3 separate regions of the Homo sapiens genome follow, and regions 1 and 3 are each linked to region 2. Evidence: fine-mapped expression QTL. A gene starts in region 2. Each other region holds a variant in brackets. All regions are shown on one strand. Distances are between the middles of the regions.

Region 1 (6,494 bases), 810 kb before region 2:
AAATGTTTAAATTTATCTATAGCCTGGAATCCCCACCCACCCCCTTACCCCCTGTCCCCCTCCCCCTCCCCTCCCCCTCCCCCACCCCCATGCTTTGAGTTGTCCCGCCTTTCTGAATCAAACCAATGTATTTCTTAAATGTATTTGATTGATGTCTCATGTCTTCTTAAAATATATAAAACCAAACTGTACCACTATCACCTTGGGCACATGTTCTTGGACCTCCTGAGGGCTGTGTCACAGGTCACGGTCACTCATATTTGGCTCAGAATAAATCTCTTCAAATATTTTACACAGTTTGACTCTTTTTGTCAACAAAGGGTAGAGAGAAAATTAGTTTTCCTCCCCTACAAATCCAGTATTCTAGAGAACCTGCTTTGGGATTCAGATCACAGCAGGGCTTTTCGTCCCTTAAGCAAGCCTTGCAACAAACCCAATTTTGAGCATTCCCAACTCTGCTAAGCTCTTCCTACGAAAGGCAAGACTTCGTTTTGATGAGCTTACTCAAAAATCAGGAGCTTATCATAAGATCATCACTTATGTCTCTGGCCGTGTGGCCGAGGCTTGTTCCCCCCTGTTTATATGCCATGGGGCAGCAGCTAGATTGGTGGAAGCTCCAGCAGATATCTTCTTTGCCTCTCCCTCACCCTAGAGATTCCTGAGGAGTAGAAATCTTATTACTTCAGAATAACACTCAATGGTTGTCAGCCAGTCTCATTGCCTTCTATGAAGTTCTGTTATGTTCTGCTTCACCCAAAACTGTTAAATATTGTTCTAATCCAAGTGCTGATATCCTACTTCCTCTTTTGAATGACTGAATGTCATGAATGTCTAGCAGCTATTTAAACTCTCAGTATTCTTCAGCCTGACACTTGATGCTCTTCTACAGCAATGCCTCTCAAAGTATAGTCCCCAGACCAGCAGCCTCAGCATCATCTGGCACTTTTTCTGGGATCCGCATTGTTGGGCCCCACTCCAGATCTTCTGAATTCAAAACTCTGGAAGTGGAAACCAGCATTGTGTAGTTCAACAAGCCCTCCAGGTGATTCTGACGCATGCTAAAGGTTGAAAACCTTGAGAACCACTGGCTAGAAAACTCTGATATGATGTTTGTTGATGGCTCATATCTTGAGAATAAGCGAAGCATATTTTGTGCTGGCTATGCCATAAGTTCTGACTATTCTGCTATTATAGCTGTTCTTTATCAATAGCTCACTCCACTCAAATAGCTGAATGACAGTTACATCACCAGCATGTCACCTTGCTAAACACTTGAGTACACATCTATACAAATAGATGTATCTTTGGAGTTGCTCATGATTTTTTTAGTACATTATGAAAACAAAGAGGTTTTCTAATCTCACCAGGCACCCCAACTAAAATGGAAAAAAAAGTAATTTATAAGAGGCAATATAACATCCAAATGAAGTATAGATTAGAAATGGAGAAACTCATTCTAAAGGTAGTACTTTTAAAGCAAAAGGGAATTTCTGACTATTATGTAAAATAAGCAGTCCTTTCTGTTCTTGCTACAGTAGGTATTCTAAAGACACTTACTCAATCTGATTTAATGAATCCTGAATGACTTATTCAAATATGATAACCTGCCACTTCAGAAGAAAAGAAATAGTGGCCTTCTCCAAACTGTCACATGTGCAATAATGGGCTTTGGCATTGCCAGGATGAGTGCTTAATGTCACCAGAGGCCATCTCCAGACCTTTAGTGCTTTCTCTGTGAAATTATTCACAATGACAAATTGCTCAAATTTTTCAAAAATCTCGCTGAGAAAAATCTTCCTTGAGACAGGTGGCCAAATCTTGCCTTCTCTGTTGTTATCATGACCCAGGAAAAGCTGCAGAAAAAGGCAAAGTTCAGAACCTTTGCCTCAAAAACCATTTGAACATTTCCAAATGGATTTCATTCAGTTATAATGGTGCGTTAGGTTTATACTTGGATTAAAGTTTTCCCTTGCTAAAAGGTGAAAAGATAGATAGATAGATAGATAGATAGATAGATAGATAGATAGATAGATAGATAGAGATAGATAGATAGATAATAGATTGATAGATATTGTTTTTTCCCACCTGCATTACTCTCTAGTGATAGAGTACATATATTACTCTCTAGTGATAGAAAATTTCACTTTACAGGTGGAAATACTTAAGAAACTGTGTAAAGTACTCCCATTAAAACAAAAACTTCCTTGCTCACATTGATCCACTCACTAAGTTTTTGCAAAATAGAATGGGCCAATGATCTCTCATAATACTCAGAAGAGTTTAATCTCTCCTGACCTAAACTCTAACCATCAGCTGTAACGATAGGCAATAGTCATCTCATCTCAAAATCTTAACAGGCTCTCCCCTTGAAACAATTCCAGGAAGACCCATGAGACTGTGATGACTCCTCCTCTATCGGATTCCACCTTGTAAACACTTCAAGCTTGTCAAATATTGTCAAAAATGACATCATATGCCCAACAGGTGCAAGCTGCATTTTCAAAGAGAATATTACCAGCTATACCCTTACATGATTTGTAGTCAGGAGACTGGAGATGCTGGAAGAGAAACTGATGAAAGTTGGTTGTACTAGATGGGCAGGCCAAGGTGGGAGGATCACTTGAGGCTGAGAGTTCAAGATCAGCCTGGACAACATAGCAAAAAACTTTAAAAATTAGCTGGGCATGATGGTGTGTACTGTAGTCTCAGCTACTCAGGAGGCTGAGGCAGAGGATTGCTAGAGCCCAGGAGTTCAAGACTGCAGTGAGCTATGATCACACCACTGCACTCCACCCTGTGCAACAGAATGAAACCCTGTCTCTGAAAAAGAAGAAGAAGAAGAAGAAGAAGAAGAAGAAGAACAAGAAGAAGAAGAAGAAGAAGAAGAGGCACACTAGAAAAGACCATTTCAGGTCCTTTTAACTACAAGTACTACATTTTAACTCCAGACTGTGTAGCCATGGGTACATGCAAGCCAGTGTCAGTGTGTTAAGTATCCTACCACTGAGACATCTCTCCAGTCCCACTAGAGACTTAACTCTGAGAGTCATCAAAAAGGACTGCATAAGCAAAGACTTCCTGAAGTGGAGAGCCCTCTCCCAAGACCTTCTAGTTAAGATCCAGAATCAGGGCAACAGACCCTCATTTTATTATTTGACTCCTCTTTTTCCCTTTATTGTTTTTATTTTGTGGTATCTCAAGATACTAGATTGTTAAAATGGTCACCCTACTCTTTTTTTTCCATTTTTTTAACACTTTCATTTTCCAGAAACTCTGTGAATTTGCCTTTCTCAAACAACTGCAACAACAGCCAATCTTTTCA[G/A]CTGCTGGATTTCTCATCCAGCCCCAGATGTTCTAGTAAGACCCTTATACCCATGCCTATAGGACTAAATGGTATCAGATTTCACCCTAAGACTGACCATGTCATTCCCTTCTATCTTCAATACAGAAATATTAACCTTGAGACATCTATATGCCTTAACTTGACACTAGGTCATTAACAATTAACTGTTGTTTCTGATATTTCCAAGAACTTTCAAAGAAACTGGGGAAATATCAAGAATAGGATAGGCATGAGACTAATGATGCAAACTATAGTCCAATTATTTTACCACAAATCTAAACAAAAACTATATAAATGATTTATTTAACTCTAGAGTGTTTTCGTCAACAATCAGATCTATTAAATTCAGACAATAAGTGGTACCTACCATAAACAACACATATATGCCTTCTCAATGTGCACTTCTGGGACTTTCTTTGGGTGTAATAAAATGGATTTTCTATGCTTGCTGCATTAAAATATGCTGTACACTTTCAGTATATTCATTCAGCCTTTCCAAACATTCAAAACAGAACCTCCCAGTGATCTTATTTTATTAATATTTTGACATGTTACCTTACCAGGAGGTATCCATGATACTGTATTTTACTGATTTGTGCAAGGATTTATACTCTGAGCAGGAGTTCCTGAAATAGATCATGTTATCCACAATTTATATCAGACTTTGGCTCAAATAGCAAATGAAATAGCTCAAGCATTAGAAGCAGAACATTTAAGCGTAAATCTATCAGATAGAATTTTTATTTGCTCACCAGCCAAGCTGGAGTCTTAGAATTTTTATTTGCTCACAAGCCAAGGTGAAGTCGGGGCAATGGGTGACACATTTTATTATGTCTGGATAAATACTTCAGGAGAAATGGGGCAATAAATCAATGAATGAATGAAAAAGCCACTTGCTTATCTAATATTGGCCAAACTAATCCTTTGGCAAGTTTGACGAAGCCCAAATTGCTCTCCTGGTTGGGCTTTGGGAAACTAAAACATTGGACATGAAGTGAGTTTCGATATTTATTATTATGATTGAACTTAGGCTTTTTGCCCTCCTCCACCGTCTAACTCCAACTGCCTAAATGTGCCTGCACAGCCAGGATCTCAAAACAACAGTTAACCCATGATCAGAGTCAAAAGGAACCTGAAACCTTCATAGTCAGCCCGGCTTGGTTGCTGAGTGACTGAGGCAGTAGTTGAGAAATTCTGGAAGGGAGCTGGTGCCCAAATGACATAGCTGAGATGAAGGTGTTAACTAAAGACAGTGACAGCCAAAACACAGAGACAGCCTGTCACACATTGCTCATAGCTAAACTTCCGAGGCCTTATGGGGAACCCATAAACAACCGAATTTGTTTTCTTTGAGGACCTAGTCTGCTGTCCAAGGGCAGAACAGCCCACTTGGCCCCTTGCTGGTCACCAGTTCGCCCAGCAAGAGGAAAGCAGGGTTCACCATTTTCAAATATGCCTGTGGTTTTCCTTCTTACCTCTCTCTTCTTCTTCCTTGTAGATAAATCCTTTGTTAGATGAAATCAATCTGTTATTAGTATTTTGTATTCAAGTAAGTTAGCTTGATAATAACTAACAATATGCCTTTGAGTTATTCTTTGAAACATGCCACCTAACCTCAATGAACCTCAGTTTACTCATCTTGTGAAATGGGAATGCACAGTACACATCTAGAGAGAATTAAGTGAAATCATGAAAGTGACAGTGCCTAGCACTGGATCTGGCACATATGCAGAAAAGTTGCCTGTCCAGATGGAGTTAATGAGGAAGGTGTTCAATCAAGCAGTCAACAAGCATTACAGGTAGGTAAGTGCCTAAGTGGAATGCTTAGTGAAATCCTAATCAATCAATTAACCATCATATGTGTTTTCAGTTCCTCGCCCTGGGGAAGATATGAAAGGACAGACAAGATCCCTTCCTTTAAGGAAACAGAAGATGAGTCAGAGAGATAAAATACACGCATGGCACAATACGTCAAGAACATGGCTATGGTGGGACTTCACAATTTGAATAAACTGCAGAAGGACAAAGGAGGGCGAGGACAGTTAATGTAAGAGTGCATGAAGGTAAGGAGGAGCAGAGTCAGGCCCACCAGGTAATCAGAACCCTCCATCTCAGCTCCCTTCTGATGCCCCAACAGAGTTCTTCAGCACATGTTATAGGCAATACCGTACAGCAAGCTTGTTCAACCTATGGCCCTCATGCCACATGCGGCCCAGGATGGCTTTGAATTTGGCCCAACACAAATTTGTAAACTTTCTTAAAACATTATGAGTTTTTTTTCAATTTTTTTCTAGCTCATCAGCTATCGTTAGTGTTAGTGTATTTTAGGTGTGGCCCAAGACAATTCTTCTTCTTCCAATGTGGCAAAAGATTGGACACCCTCACCCCTGCCCCAGATTGAAATCTTGAGTTATATAAATTATCTGTTCCTCAGTTTCCTCATCTATAAAATAGAAATAACAATACCTACTTGCAAGAGTTGTGTGCTTTAAATGAGATAATGGGTGAAAAGCACTTAGCACAGTGCCAATACAAAGCAGGCAAAATATAATAGTTATTATTATTTCAGTTATTTGTTATTGGCATTGTCTTTCTAGTCTCTGTTCTCTCACATCCTCTCTTCCAACCATGTTAGAAAATACCACTTTGCTCCCAGTTTCACAGATTCCTTGCTCTTTCTGGCTTCTACCTTTGTTTATGCTGAATGTACTACAGCCCGTTCCCTCCACCTTTACCCTCCAAACCTACACAGAACACATCAACCTGCCACTGCCGTTTCCAGTTTTCAAGGTCTAGATTAAATCTGCAAAGACTTCCCAGATTAATTTGCTCACCACTCGATTGCAAGGTTTTTACCTTTTATAGCACTCTTCACAGACAGCATTGCATTATAATTGCTTTTGTAGGCAAAAGCCTCTAATTGGCTTCTGAGGCAAGCATACTGCTTTATTAACCTTTGCTTTCCCCATGGCCAGCCTAAAAAAAGGTACATAGTAGGCTAGTTAGAACCAAAAGCCAGAAATTCTTCATTTGGCTTCTCTAGGATAAAGGACAATTAGCAACCCCTGCTTCTAGAGCCCACCAGGATTATGCATTGTATGCATGGGTAGGCCATAAGAGGAACTGATCCAGGAATCAGAACCAACAATCT
Region 2 (6,374 bases):
ACGCCCGGCTAAGTTTTTTGTATTTTTATTAGAGATGGGGTTTCACCCTGTTAGCCAGAATGGTCTCGATCTCCTGACCTCGTGATCCGTCCACCTCCGCCTCCCAAAGCGCTGAGATTACAGGCATGAGGCACCCTGCCCGGCCTGGGATCATTGACAATTTTATTAACCACAAGGTCTATACCTTGCACACAGTAGGCTTGTAATAGATGTCAGTTATCAATAAGGAGAAGATATATTTTCCAGTGCCTGGCACACTATAGCCCCAAATAGATGCCAGTTTTTAGTATTACTGATAATAAGGTGTGATTTGCAGCCAGAGCACAGTAGGCCTAAATGATAGATCCTCACTGCAACTACGCTTGGCACACAGGAGACAGCAGTAGAGGTTAGCAGTACTTCCTATTAGATACTATGTCATCACCCCCATAGAGTAATCCATGGGATTTAACTTGGCATACAGTAGGCCCCAAATAGGCATTAGGTGGTCAGTATTATTTTGTTGTTTTTTTTGGATTTTTTTCAGACAGGGTCTCCATGTGTCGGCCAGGCTGGAGTGCAGTGGCACAATCTCGGCTCACTGCACCCTTGACATCCTAGGCTCAAGAGATCCTCTCACCTCAGCCTCCCAAGTAGCTGGGACTACAGGCATGCACCACAACACACGATTAATTTTTGTATTTTTTGTAAAGACGGGGTTTTGCCATGTTGCTCAGGCTAATCTCTTAATCCCTAAACTCAAGCAATCTACCCGCCTCAGCCTCCTAAAGTGCTGGGAATGCCAGCTTGAGCCGCCACGCCCAGCCAGTCAGTATTGTTAAGAATGAAATATCTGCCGGGCACAGTGGCTTATGCCTGTAATCCCAACCCTTTGGAAAGCCAAGGGTGGGGGGTGGATCACCTGAGGTCAGGAGTTAGAGGCCAGCCTAGCCAACATGGTGAAACCCGTCTCTACTAAAAATGCAAAAATCAGCCGGGTGTGGTATCACGTGCCTGTAATCCCAGCTACTTGGGAGGCTGAGACAGGAAAATCGCTTGAGCCCGGGAGGCGGAGGTTGCAGTGAGACGAGATCACGCCACAGCACTCCAGCCTGGGCGACAGACCGAGACTCTGTCTCAAAAAAAAAAAAAAAAAAATTGCCAGGTGTGGTGGGGCGGGGCGTGCCTGTAGTCCCAACTACTCGGGAAGTTAAGGCAGGAGAATCGCTTGAACCTGGAAGGCGGAGGTTTTAGTGAGCCGAGATCGCGCCACTGCACTCCAGCCTGGGTGCACAATAAGACTCTGCCTCAAAAAAAAAAAAAAAAAAAAAAAAAAAAAAAAAAAAAAAGAATGAAATATCTATTCCCCCAACCCCCTCCACTTGACACGCGGTAGGGATGGATGTCAGGAATCCACATTGTTAACAACGAAAAATGCCTGCCACCCCATTGCTTGGTGCACAGTTGGCCCATGCTAGGTATCAAGCGTCAGTATCAACAACAAAAGTGCCTGTCGAGGCTGGCACGTGTTAGGACCATCTGCTTTTAGCTGTCTCACCAGGCTCCAGATGTTTGAGGATGCCTCTCTTGGCCAAGCGGGTCTGCAGCGCAACGGGCAGCGGCATAGCTGATAGCAGACAGACCTAGGGACAGACGAACAAACTGACAAGCAGCTCAGATAAAGATTCCTATCTGGATCCCGTAACCAAGCGCCTCCCGTAAACATGTACTCATCTGACTCCGATCTACTCAAATGAACCAGTAGCTGGGTGGACAGAACATACGCACTAAAAGATGTAAGAGGTAGGTGGCAATATCATCGCAACTCCCACCAACCCTACTGTCCCCGAAACCAGGTGCTCCAGGGCCCTGTTCCTCTCCCAGGCCCAGGCTCCGCCCACAGCCTAAGAAGCCCGGCCCCTCCGCACTTCAGAAATGGGCTCATCCAGCGTCCCCATGACTGCCGGGTGGGAGAAACCAAAGCGCTGGGATGGGGGAGCAGAGGGCAGCACTTCCTCCAGCTCCAAAAGAGTGCACCCACCCCAACGTTACCAATACACTCGTGCAGGTAGTGGAAGGCTGTCACACCGCCCGTCTCTCTCGTGTCGCCGCTACGATACCTGGGCCCACACGACTCTCTTCCCAAAACACCGAATGAGACCTTCTCTCAACGAGGCCTTCACTCCCCGAGCCTGAAAGTAACTGGACTACGCTCAGGAGGCAATGAACAAATGGCAGAAACTCGATTGGCCAATGAGAGTGCGTCCTTGGCGTGACATGCGGTATAGCGACCCAATCGCTGCCCGGTAATAGGCGGAAAGCTCCGACGCCGGTGTGCGTCTACGCTGGGGGCGTGGCCTGACTGCGCGGCCAGACGCCAGCGCCATGGAGGAGTACGCTCGGGAGCCCTGGTACGGCAATGGGCACAGGCATCCGGAATATTGCTGCGACGCCAAGGCCAGCCGTGGGGGTCGGGCGGGGGAGGCATCGGCCGCACAGAGCCATGTACCAGACTCGGGGGACTCTTAACGTATCTCCCGCTACCCCCACTCGGTTCCTGTCATTCGGGCTCCGTTATGAGGGGCCACAACCAGAGAAGGTGCGGCGAAGGCCGAACCACGCCATGTTTCTCCTGACTTCGTAATCTCCTAGCCCTGTTAACGAAAAAAGACACGCTGGACGATCCATCCCGGCTAGGGGTGGTACGGTGTTGACCGGAAATCCCCAGAGTTGCCGCCAGTGGTTTTTCCCAGGTCGCCTTTGTCAGTGGGGGGCGGGGCACGGATGAACCTGTTGAGGGCCGGCGGGGACGGTGGATGCTTCCCGCGGTCGCTCTTGGTTTTTCCCAGTTGTGCCGGATTGAAAAGGGGCGGGGCATGGTTGGACGGGCTCACCGTCGGAGAAGGGGTGCGACGCGGTCCTGCTTTGCTGACAGTCTGTCTTGGCTAGTTAACACGCCTATGTCGCTTATTGAAACGTCAACTCTGCGTGTGCCAATTCATTTAATCTTTGATCACAGTAAAACCGTTGGCTGATTCCTTGGTTGGTAGACAGGGCGAAGACTAATATTTCTCCCCCTTTGCCCCATTTCTCGCTTTAATGGGGGGGTGTGTGGAAAAAGCGTGACAGAACTAGCTCATTATTATCTGAAGTGTTTGTTCCTACTTAGGAACTTCCCATTCTGGTGACTTGGTTTCTCCCAGTTAGAAAAGAGTTCGTGTGACAGGACCTGGGGGAGGGCTCACATTAACCCCGTCCTTCCCTTCCTGCTTGCAGCCCATGGCGAATTGTGGATGATTGCGGTGGAGCCTTCACTATGGGTGTCATCGGTGGCGGAGTCTTCCAGGCCATCAAGGGTTTCCGCAATGCCCCTGTTGTGAGTCCAGGCCTTCCCTGGGTTGGTGTGGGGTTAGCTATCTTGCCCACAAGGGAGGCTGCTCTGAAAACTGCTTGGAGCTGCCAGTCACGTGCACTTATTCATTCTGGTGCCCACTCACCTACTATGTGCCGAGCCTGGCTCCTGTATCTGGGATTTTGTAGGGATTGCAAACATGGCCTCTGTCTTCCACCCTCCACCCCACCCAACTGGAGCTCCTCTGTGGAAATGCTGTGTCGTTCAAAGAGTCATCACCAAATTTTAAATGTATGTGCAAAGCCAGACAGTTTTTTTTTTTTTTGAGACAGTCTTGCTCTGTTGCCCAGGCTAGAGTGCAGTGGCACGCTCTTGGCTCACTGCAACCTCTGCCTCCTGGGTTCAGGCAATTCTCCTGTCTCAGCCTCCCAAGTAGCTGGGACTACAGGCATGTGCCACCAGACCTGACGAATTTTTGTAATTTTAGTAGAAATGGGGTTTCACTATGTTGGCCAGGCTGGCCTTGAACTCTGGACCTCAGGTGATCCACCTACCTCGGCCTCCCAAAGTGCTGGGATTACAGGCGTGTGCCACTGTGCCTGGCCATGTTTTTTTTTTTTTTTTTTTTTTTGAGACAGCATCTTGCCCTGTTGCCCAGGCTGGCGTGCAGTGGCCTGATCATGGGTCACTACAGCCTCCGCCTCCCAGGCTCAAGTGATCCTCCCACCTCAGCCTCCCAAGTAGCTGGGACCACAGGACTGCGCCACCATGCCCGGCTAATTATTTATGTATGTATTTATTTATTTGTAGAGACGGGGTTTCAACGTGTTGCTTAGGCTGGTCTCTAATTCCTGAACTCAAGTGATCCACCCACCTCAGCCTCCCAAAGTGCTGGGATTACAGGTGTTAGCCACTGCGCATTTTACCTAGAGGCAGATTCTGGCTCAGAAACCCGGATAGAGGAAAATGACAGGAATTTAATTGGCAGACGGAAGACAGCCTTGAAGTTGAGAGAATTCTTTTAACATAATTCTTTTTCTCTGACCACCTCCCCTCCCAGAAGATCGCAAATGCCATGACTTTAAATGCCATCTATTAGCCAAGGTCTCTGCAATTTATATATGTAGCCCCGTCCCTCCCCTAGACTCCTGGAACTCTCCTCCCTGGATCTTTGCCCAAGTTTGTCATCCTCAAGGTCTCAGCACAGATTCCCCCTCCTTCAAGAGGCCTTTCCTGACCCCTCAGCCCCAGTCATATTTCTTCATGGCATTTCCTCTACAGTGCAGATTGCTGTCTGAAGCTCCCTTGTTTATCTACTCTTGCTCAAGATCTGTGTCTCCCACCGTTAATGTGAGCTCTGAGAGGGCAGAGAGCAGACCTACCTTGTTCATGGCTGTATCCCTGCATATGGCATGGTGCTTGGCACATATAGTAGGTACTTGTTAATCATTCACTGAATGAATGAATGAACAAATGTATGAATGAATTAGCACTTCTCAACCTAGCTCTGAGAACACCCATGTTGGGGCGCTCTCCAGGCCACTAGTTCTTGGCCACTTCTCCACATCTCTACAGCTCATACCTCTAACAGGTCTCCCATCTTCTTCCCTCTCTTAAAAGTTGGAAACGTGTCTGCCAGTGGCTTCAGCCCTGCCCTAACGCCCTTCCTTCCTTTCCCCAGGGAATTCGGCACCGGTTGAGAGGTAGTGCCAATGCTGTGAGGATCCGAGCCCCCCAGATTGGAGGTGAGGGACTTGGGGAGATAGATATAGGAGATGTCTTGGCAAAGGTGGGAGTGGTTGATCCTTTGGGTCTAGGCTGCAAGTTAGGGGTTCAGATTCTAGCCCCTGCCAGAGACTTTCTAGGGGGGTGATGTTTCCCAACAATTGAATATGGAGGGGAAGAAAGTGGGTTCTGGAGTTTAAATCTAGGTCCTGACTGTTCCCTGCCATGTGACCTTGGGCTAGTGGCTTAACCTCTCTGAACCTCACTTGTACCGTGGGGGTGGTGATAACAGTAACCACTTCATCGGTAGTTTTATAGTTTATGTAATTTACATACTACTAAGTGCTGGTTGCTATGCTAAACACTTTAATAACATTAACTAATTTAAAATTGCAGAAGTTAAATAACAGAGCACCTCGAACAGGTCCTGGCACACAGTAAGCCCTCAGTAAACATTTTAACTATCATATTAACTGGGTTTCCTAACCTATTTCCTTCTCACTGAAACCCAAATCAGAATTCCAACTCTGTGTGGTGATTATGAAGCTCAAAGTTGCTCTGTTAAAAGCCATATGAAGATAAATCTGCTTGTAAACATTTGTCAACTCCCCATAAAGATGAAGGGAATGTTGATGGTGATTATAGACGGCTTGAAGTGGGAGCTACCACAGGATGGGGACAGATAGGAAATACTCTGTGTGGGTTTGCTATCTGCCTTTGTGTCTGGGTTTTTCTCCCTGTTCTTGGCCAAAGCATTCAGGCCTTGGAAGTCCCCTGAGATGTGAATTCTCAGGATTTCCCAGGAACTAATTAGGCCTCGGTTCCACTACAGGTAGCTTCGCAGTGTGGGGGGGCCTGTTCTCCACCATCGACTGTGGCCTGGTGCGGCTTCGGGGCAAGGAGGATCCCTGGAACTCTATCACCAGTGGAGCATTGACCGGGGCTGTGCTGGCTGCCCGCAGTGAGTGACCCCTGGCCCTGGCCCCAGCCCCTTCCACCCTGTTCTGCCTGCTCTCACCTCTGTTTCTCTGCCTCCAACTCCCCCAGGTGGCCCACTGGCCATGGTGGGCTCAGCAATGATGGGGGGCATCCTGTTGGCCCTCATTGAGGGCGTTGGCATCCTCCTCACTCGCTACACAGCCCAGCAGTTCCGAAATGGTGAGTAACTGGTGGTCGGGGGAGTGGGAAATACTCCACCTGGCCTCTTCCACTCATCCTTACCCAAGTCTCCCTTCTCCAGCGCCCCCATTCCTGGAGGACCCCAGCCAGCTGCCCCCTAAGGATGGCACCCCGGCCCCAGGCTACCCCAGCTATCAGC
Region 3 (6,494 bases), 23 kb after region 2:
GACATAAATCTTAGATCTTTGTTGTTGCCCTATAGGTCTCTGAGACTCTGTCCATCTTTTTTTCAGTGTATTTTCTCTCTGTTGTTGAGATTGGACACTTTCTACTGTTCTGTCTGCCAGATCACTTCTCTGTCATATTCATTCTGCCATTGAACCTTTTGCATTAGCTTTAATTTTCTGTTTTCTTTTTCTTTTTTTCTTTTTTTTGGATGGAGTTTTGCTCTTTTGCCCAGGCTGGAGTGAAGTGCAGTGGCTCACTGCAGCCTCCGCCTCCTTGGTTCAAGCCATTCTCCTGCCTCAGCCTCCCCAGTAGATGGGATTACAGGTGCCCGCCACCACGCCCGGCTAATTTTTGTATATTTAGTAGAGACAGGGTTTCACCATGTTGGCCAGGCTGGTCTCAAACCCCTGACCTCAGGTGATCCACCCACCTTGGCCTCCCAAAGTGCTGGGATTACAGGCATGAGCCACCGCGCCAGGCCAGTTTTAATTTTCATTTATAATTTTTAGTTCTATCATTTCTATTTGGTTCTTTTTCTATATCATCTATATGTTGATAATTTTTTTTTGAGATGGGGTCTCACTCTGTTGCCCAGGCTGGAGTGCAGTGGTGCAATCACAGCTCACTGCAGCCTCAACCTCCTAGGCTGAATCGATCCTCCTAAGCTCAGCCTCCCAAGTAGCTGGAACCACAAGTGCACACCACCATAACTGGCTACTTTTTGTATTTTCTGTAGAGGTGGGGCTTCACCATATTGCCCAGGCTGGTCTTGAGCTCCTGGACTCAAACGTCCTAACCGCCTTGGCCTCCCAAAGTACTGGGATTACAGTTGTGAGCCATCGCACCTGGCCAAAGAATTTCTATTTCTTCTTTTGTTTCCAGTTTATTTGTAATTCCTTATTGACTCATTTTTATGGTGACTACTCTAAAATCCTTGTCAGATAATTCCAGCATGTGATTCATCTTGCTATTGGCTTCTGTTTTTTGTTTTGTTTTGTTTTGTTTTGAGACAGACTCTTACTCTGTCACCCAGGCTGGAGTACAGTGGCATGATCATGGCTCACTGCAGCCTCAACTTACCCTGGCTCAGGTGATTCTCCCAGCTCAGCCTCCCGAGTAGTAGCTGGGACTACAGGCACGTGCCACCACGCCTGGCTAATTTTTCCATTTTTTTGTAGAGATGAGGTTTCGCCATGTTGCTCAGGCTGGTCTTAAACTCCTGGACTCAAGCGGTTGGCCTGCCTTGGCCTCCCAAAGTTCTGGGATTACAGGCATGAGCCGCCACACCTGGCCCATTCTTAAGCTGAGTTATCTATTTGTAAACTGCTGATTTATTTGGGGGCATTGTCCCCATAAACTTTTCAGAAAGCATCAATGATTTTTCACCATTCTTCCACCCAACCATCACCATAAATTTGATTTTGTTCTTGCTTCAGTATTAGCAGAATTCATGTGGCTCTGGTAGAGGCTCTTTTCAAATTGATGTCTTATCCTTCTTAACCCCTCAAACCAGATCCTGTTCAGACATGTTATAACAAGTTAGTACAGATTTATTTTGGTGTAAAAAAAAATTGAAATTCAAAAAAGAAAAAACAAAAATAAATAAATAAAAGCAAAACAAAAATAGGAAGGAAAAAAGCAAAACAGAAAAACAACAAAAAACTATAAAACATTTGAAATCCATGCATATAGTTTTTTTCACCAAATGCATTTTCCGTGTACTTTTAGATGACCCCTCATATAAAAAGAACTCCTAAAAAATTTTAAGGGAAAGACAAGACGCCCAATCAAAAAGTATGCAAAGGTTATGAACAAACATTTTGCATAAGAGGAAACCCAAATGGCCAATAAATATATAGAAATATGCTCACACTAAATCAGAGAGCTGTATATTAAAGGAACAAAATGTTATTTCCTGTCTATCAGATAGGCAAAAAGATTTTTTTTTTTGAGATGGAGTCTTGCTCTGTTGCCCAGGCTGGAGTGCAGTGGCACTATCTCGGCTCACTGCAATCTCTGCCTCCGGGGTTCAAGCAATTCTCCTGCCTCAGCCTCCTGAGTACCTGGGACTACAGGCATGTGCCACCATGTCCGGCTAATTTTTGTACTTTTTAAGTAGAGACGAGGTTTCACTATGTTGGCCAGGCTGGTCTCGAACTCCTGACCTCAGGTGATCTGCCTGCCTTCGCCTCCCTAAGTGCTGGGATTATAGGTGTGAGCCACCGCTACCCAGCCCCAGATAGAGAAAAAATTTAAAATCTGATAATACCAACTGTTGGTAAGCATTTCCAGAGACAGAATGTCTCATTCACAGCTGATGGGAGCATAATGGATACAACAATTATTTTGGAAAACCGTTTTATAGTTCCTTTTTTCTTTCTTTCTTTTTTTTTTTTTTGAGACAGAGTTTCACTCTTGTCACCCAGGCTGGAGTGCAGTGGCAAGATCTTGGCTCACTGAAACCTCTGTCTCCTGGGTTCAAGTGATTCTCCTGCCTCAGGCTCCCAAGTAGCTGGAATTACAGGCGCTCGCCACAACGCCCAGCTAATGTTTGTATTTTTAGTACAGATGGGATTTTACCATGTTGGCCAGGCTGGTCTCGAACTCCTGACCTCAGGTGATCCACCCGCCTTCGCCTCCCAAAGTGCTGGGATTACAGGCATAAGTCTCCATGCCCAGCCGGCAGTTTCTACTAGAGCTGTATATGTGCACACCCATCACTCAGTGATGCCACTTCTGGGTATATACTAAACAGAATGTGTATAAATGTTTTTTTGTTTTGTTTTGTTTTATCCTTTTTTTTATTATTATACTTTAAGTTTTAGGGTACATGTGCACAACGTGCAGGTTAGTTACATATGTATACATGTGCCATGTTGGTGTGCTGCACCCAGTAACTCGTCATTTAACATTAGGTATATCTCCAAAGGCTATTCCTCCCCCGCCCCCCATCCCACAACAGTCCCTGGTGTGTGATGTTCCCCTTCCTGTGTCCATGTGTTCTCACTGTTCAATTCCCACCTATGAGTGAGAACATGTGGTGTTTGGTTTTTTGTCCTTGCAATAGTTTGCTGAGAATGATGGTTTCCAGCTTCATCCATGTCCCTACAAAGGACATGAACTCATCATTTTTTATGGCTGCATAGTATTCTATGGTGTATATGTGCCACATTTTCTTAATCCAGTCTATCATTTTTGGACATTTGGGTTGGTTCCAATTCTTTGCTATTGTGAATAGTGTCACAATAAACATACATGTGCATGTGTCTTTATAGCAACATGATTTATAATCCTTTGGGTATATACCCAGTAATGGGATGGCTGGGTCAAATGGTATTTCTAGTTCTA[G/C]ATCCCTGAGGAAGCGCCACACTGACTTCCACAAGGGTTGAACTAGTTTACAGTCCCACCAACAGTGTAAAAGTGTTCCTATTTCTCCACATCCTCTCCAGCACCTGTTGTTTCCTGACTTTTTAATGATCACCATTCTGACTGGTGTGAGATGGTATTTCATTGTGGTTTTGATTTGCATTTCTCTGATGGCCAGTGATGATGAGCATTTTTTCATGTGTCTTTTGGCTACATAAATGTCTTCTTTTGAGAAGTGTCTGTTCATATCCTTTGCCCACTTTTTGTGATGGGGTTTTTTGTTTTTTTCTTGTAAATTTGTTAGAGTTCATTGTAGATTCTGGGTATTAGCCCTTTGTCAGATGAGTAGATTGCAAAAATTTTCTCCCATTCTGTAGGTTGCCTGTTCACTCTGATGGTAGTTTCTTTTGCTGTGCAGAAGCTCTTTAGTTTAATTAGATCCCATTTGTCAATTTTGGCTTTTGTTGCCATTACTTTTGGTGTTTTAGACATGAAGTCCTTGCCCATGCCTATGTCCTGAATGGTATTGCCTAGGTTTTCTTCTAGGGTTTTTATGGTTTTAGGTCTAACATTTAAGTCTTTAATCCATCTTGAATTAATTTTTGTATAAGGTATAAGGAAGGGATCCAGTTTCAGCTTTCTACATATGGCTAGTCAGTTTTCCCAGCACCATTTATTAAATAGGGAATCATTTCCCCATTGCTTGTTTTTCTCAGGTTTGTGAAAGATCAGATGGTTGTAGATATGCGGCATTATTTCTGAGGGCTCTGTTCTGTTCCATTGGTCTGTATCTCTGTTTTGGTACCAGTACCATGCTGTTTTGGTTACTGTAGCCTTATGGTATAGTTTGAAGTCAGGTAGCGTGATGCCTCCAGCTTTGTTCTTTTGTCTTAGGATTGACTTGGCCATGCGGGCTCTTTTTTGGTTCCATATGAACTTTAAAGAAGTTTTTTCCAATTCTGTGAAGAAAGTCATTGGTAGCTTGATGGGGATGGCATTGAATCTATAAATTACCTTGAGCAGTATGGCCATTTTCATGATATTGATTCTTCCTACCCATGAGCATGGAATGTTCTTCCATTTGTTTGTATCCTCTTTTGTTTCATTGAGCAGTGGTTTGTAGTTCTCCTTGAAGAGGTCCTTCACGTCCCTTGTAAATTGGATTCCTAGGTATTTTATTCTCTTTGAAGCAATTGTGAATGGGAGTTCACTCATGATTTGGCTGTTTGTCTGTTATTGGTGTTTAAGAATGCTTGGATTTTTGCACATTGATTTTGTATCCTGAGACTTTGCTGAAGTTGCCTATCAGCTTAAGGAGATTTTGGGCTGAGATGATGGGGTTTTCTAGATATATAAATCATGTCATCTGCAAACAGGGACAATTCGACTTCCTCTTTTCTTAATTGAATACCCTTTATTTCCTTCTCCTGCCTGATTGCCCTGGCCAGAACTTCCAACACTATGTTGAATAGGAGTGGTGAGAGAGGGCATCCCTGTCTTGTGCCGGTTTTCAAAGGGAATGCTTCCAGTTTTTGTCCATTCAGTATGATATTGGCTGTGGGTTTGTCATAGATAGCTCTTATTATTTTGAGATACGTCCCATCAATACCTAATTTATTGAGAGTTTTAGTTGTTGAATTTTGTCAAAGGCCTTTTCTGCGTCTATTGAGATAATCATATGGTTTTTGTCGTTGGTTCTGTTTATGTGCTGGATTATGTTTATTGATTTGTGTATGTTGAACCAGCCTTGCATCCCAGGGATGAAGCCCTCTTGATCATGGTGGATAAGCTTTTTGATGTGCTACTGGATTCGGTTTGCCAGTATTTTATTGAGGATTTTTGCATCGATGTTCATCAGGGATATTGGTCTAAAATTCTCTTTTTTTGTTGTGTCTCTGCCAGGCTTTGGTATCAGGATGATGCTGGCCTGATAAAATGAGTTAGGGAGGATTCCCTCTTTTTCTATTGATTGGAATAGTTTCAGAAGGAATGGTACCAGCTCTTCCTTGTACCTCTGGTAGAATTTGGCTGTGAATCCATCTGGTCCTGGACTTTTTTTGGTTGGTAAGCTATTAATTATTGCCTCAATTTCAGAGCCTATTATTGGTCTATTCAGAGATTCAACTTCTTCCTGGTTTAGTCTTGGGAGGGTATATGTGTCGAGGAATTTATCCATTTCCTCTAGATTTTCTAGTTTATTTGCGTAGAGGTGTTTATAGTATTCTCTGATGGTAGTTTGTATTTCTGTGGGATCGGTGGTGATATCCCCTTTATCATTTTTTATTGCTTCTATTTGATCCTTCTCTCTTTTCTTCTTTATTAGTCTTGCTAGCGGTCTATCAATTTTGTTGATCTTTTCAAAAAACAAGCTCCTGGATTCATTGATGTTTTGAAGGGTTTTTTGTGTCTCTATCTCCTTCAGTTCTGCTCTGATCTTAGTTATTTCTTGCCTTCTGCTAGCTTTTGAATGTGTTTGCTCTTGCTTCTCTAGTTCTTTTAATTGTGATGTTAGGGTGTCAATTTTAGATCTTTCCTGCTTTCTCTTGTGGGCATTTAGTGCTGTAAATTTCCCTCTACACACTGCTTTGAATGTGTCCCAGAGATTCTGGTATGTTGTGTCTTTGTTCTCGTTGGTTTCAAAGAATATCTTTATTTCTGCCTTCATTTCGTTATGTACCCAGTAGTCATTCAGGAGCAGGTTGTTCAGTTTCCATGTAGTTGAGCAGTTTTGAGTGAGTTTCTTAATCCTGAGTTCTAGTTTGATTGCACTGTGGTCTGAGAGACAGTTTGTCATAATTTCCATTCTTTTACATTTGCTGAGAAGTGCTTTACTTCCAACTATGTGGTCAGTTTCGGAATAAGTGCGGTGTGGTGCTGAGAAGAACATATATTCTGTTGATTTGGGGTGGAGAGTTCTGTAAATGTCTATTAGATCCACTTAGTGCAGAGCTGAGTTCAGTTCCTGGATATCCTTGTTAACTTTCTGTCTCGTTGATCTATCTAATGTTGACGGTGGGGTGTTAAAGTCTCCCATTATTATTGTGTGGGAGTCTAAGTCTCTTTGTAGGTCACTAAGGACTTGCTTTATGAATCTGGGTGCTCCTGTATTGGGTGCATATATGTTTAG

Evidence for each region.
Region 1: its variant is fine-mapped to the expression of TIMM17B in lung (TOPMed, PIP 0.99).
Region 3: its variant is fine-mapped to the expression of TIMM17B in lung (TOPMed, PIP 0.98).

What each region holds. Positions count from the first base shown.
Region 1 is chrX:49,702,939-49,709,432 of GRCh38, reverse strand. No RefSeq gene overlaps it. Among named protein-coding and RNA genes, the nearest start is that of PAGE1, 10 kb to the right of the region's middle. The variant G/A (reference allele first, on the strand shown) is at 3,323.
Region 2 is chrX:48,893,740-48,900,113 of GRCh38, reverse strand. It overlaps TIMM17B (translocase of inner mitochondrial membrane 17B), which reads left to right and starts at 2,346. Exons shown (of 6, transcript NM_001395498.1): 1 at 2,346-2,390; 2 at 3,256-3,355; 3 at 5,013-5,076; 4 at 5,889-6,017; 5 at 6,104-6,214; 6 at 6,297-6,374. The coding sequence starts at 2,365. It overlaps PQBP1 (polyglutamine binding protein 1), which reads right to left and starts at 2,184. Exons shown (of 7, transcript NM_001032382.2): 1 at 2,032-2,184; 2 at 1,538-1,622. The coding sequence starts at 1,604. RefSeq lists enhancers at 1,521-1,740, 1,791-2,160, 2,451-2,650, 2,681-2,830.
Region 3 is chrX:48,870,441-48,876,934 of GRCh38, reverse strand. No RefSeq gene overlaps it. Among named protein-coding and RNA genes, the nearest start is that of TIMM17B, 24 kb to the left of the region's middle. The variant G/C (reference allele first, on the strand shown) is at 3,350.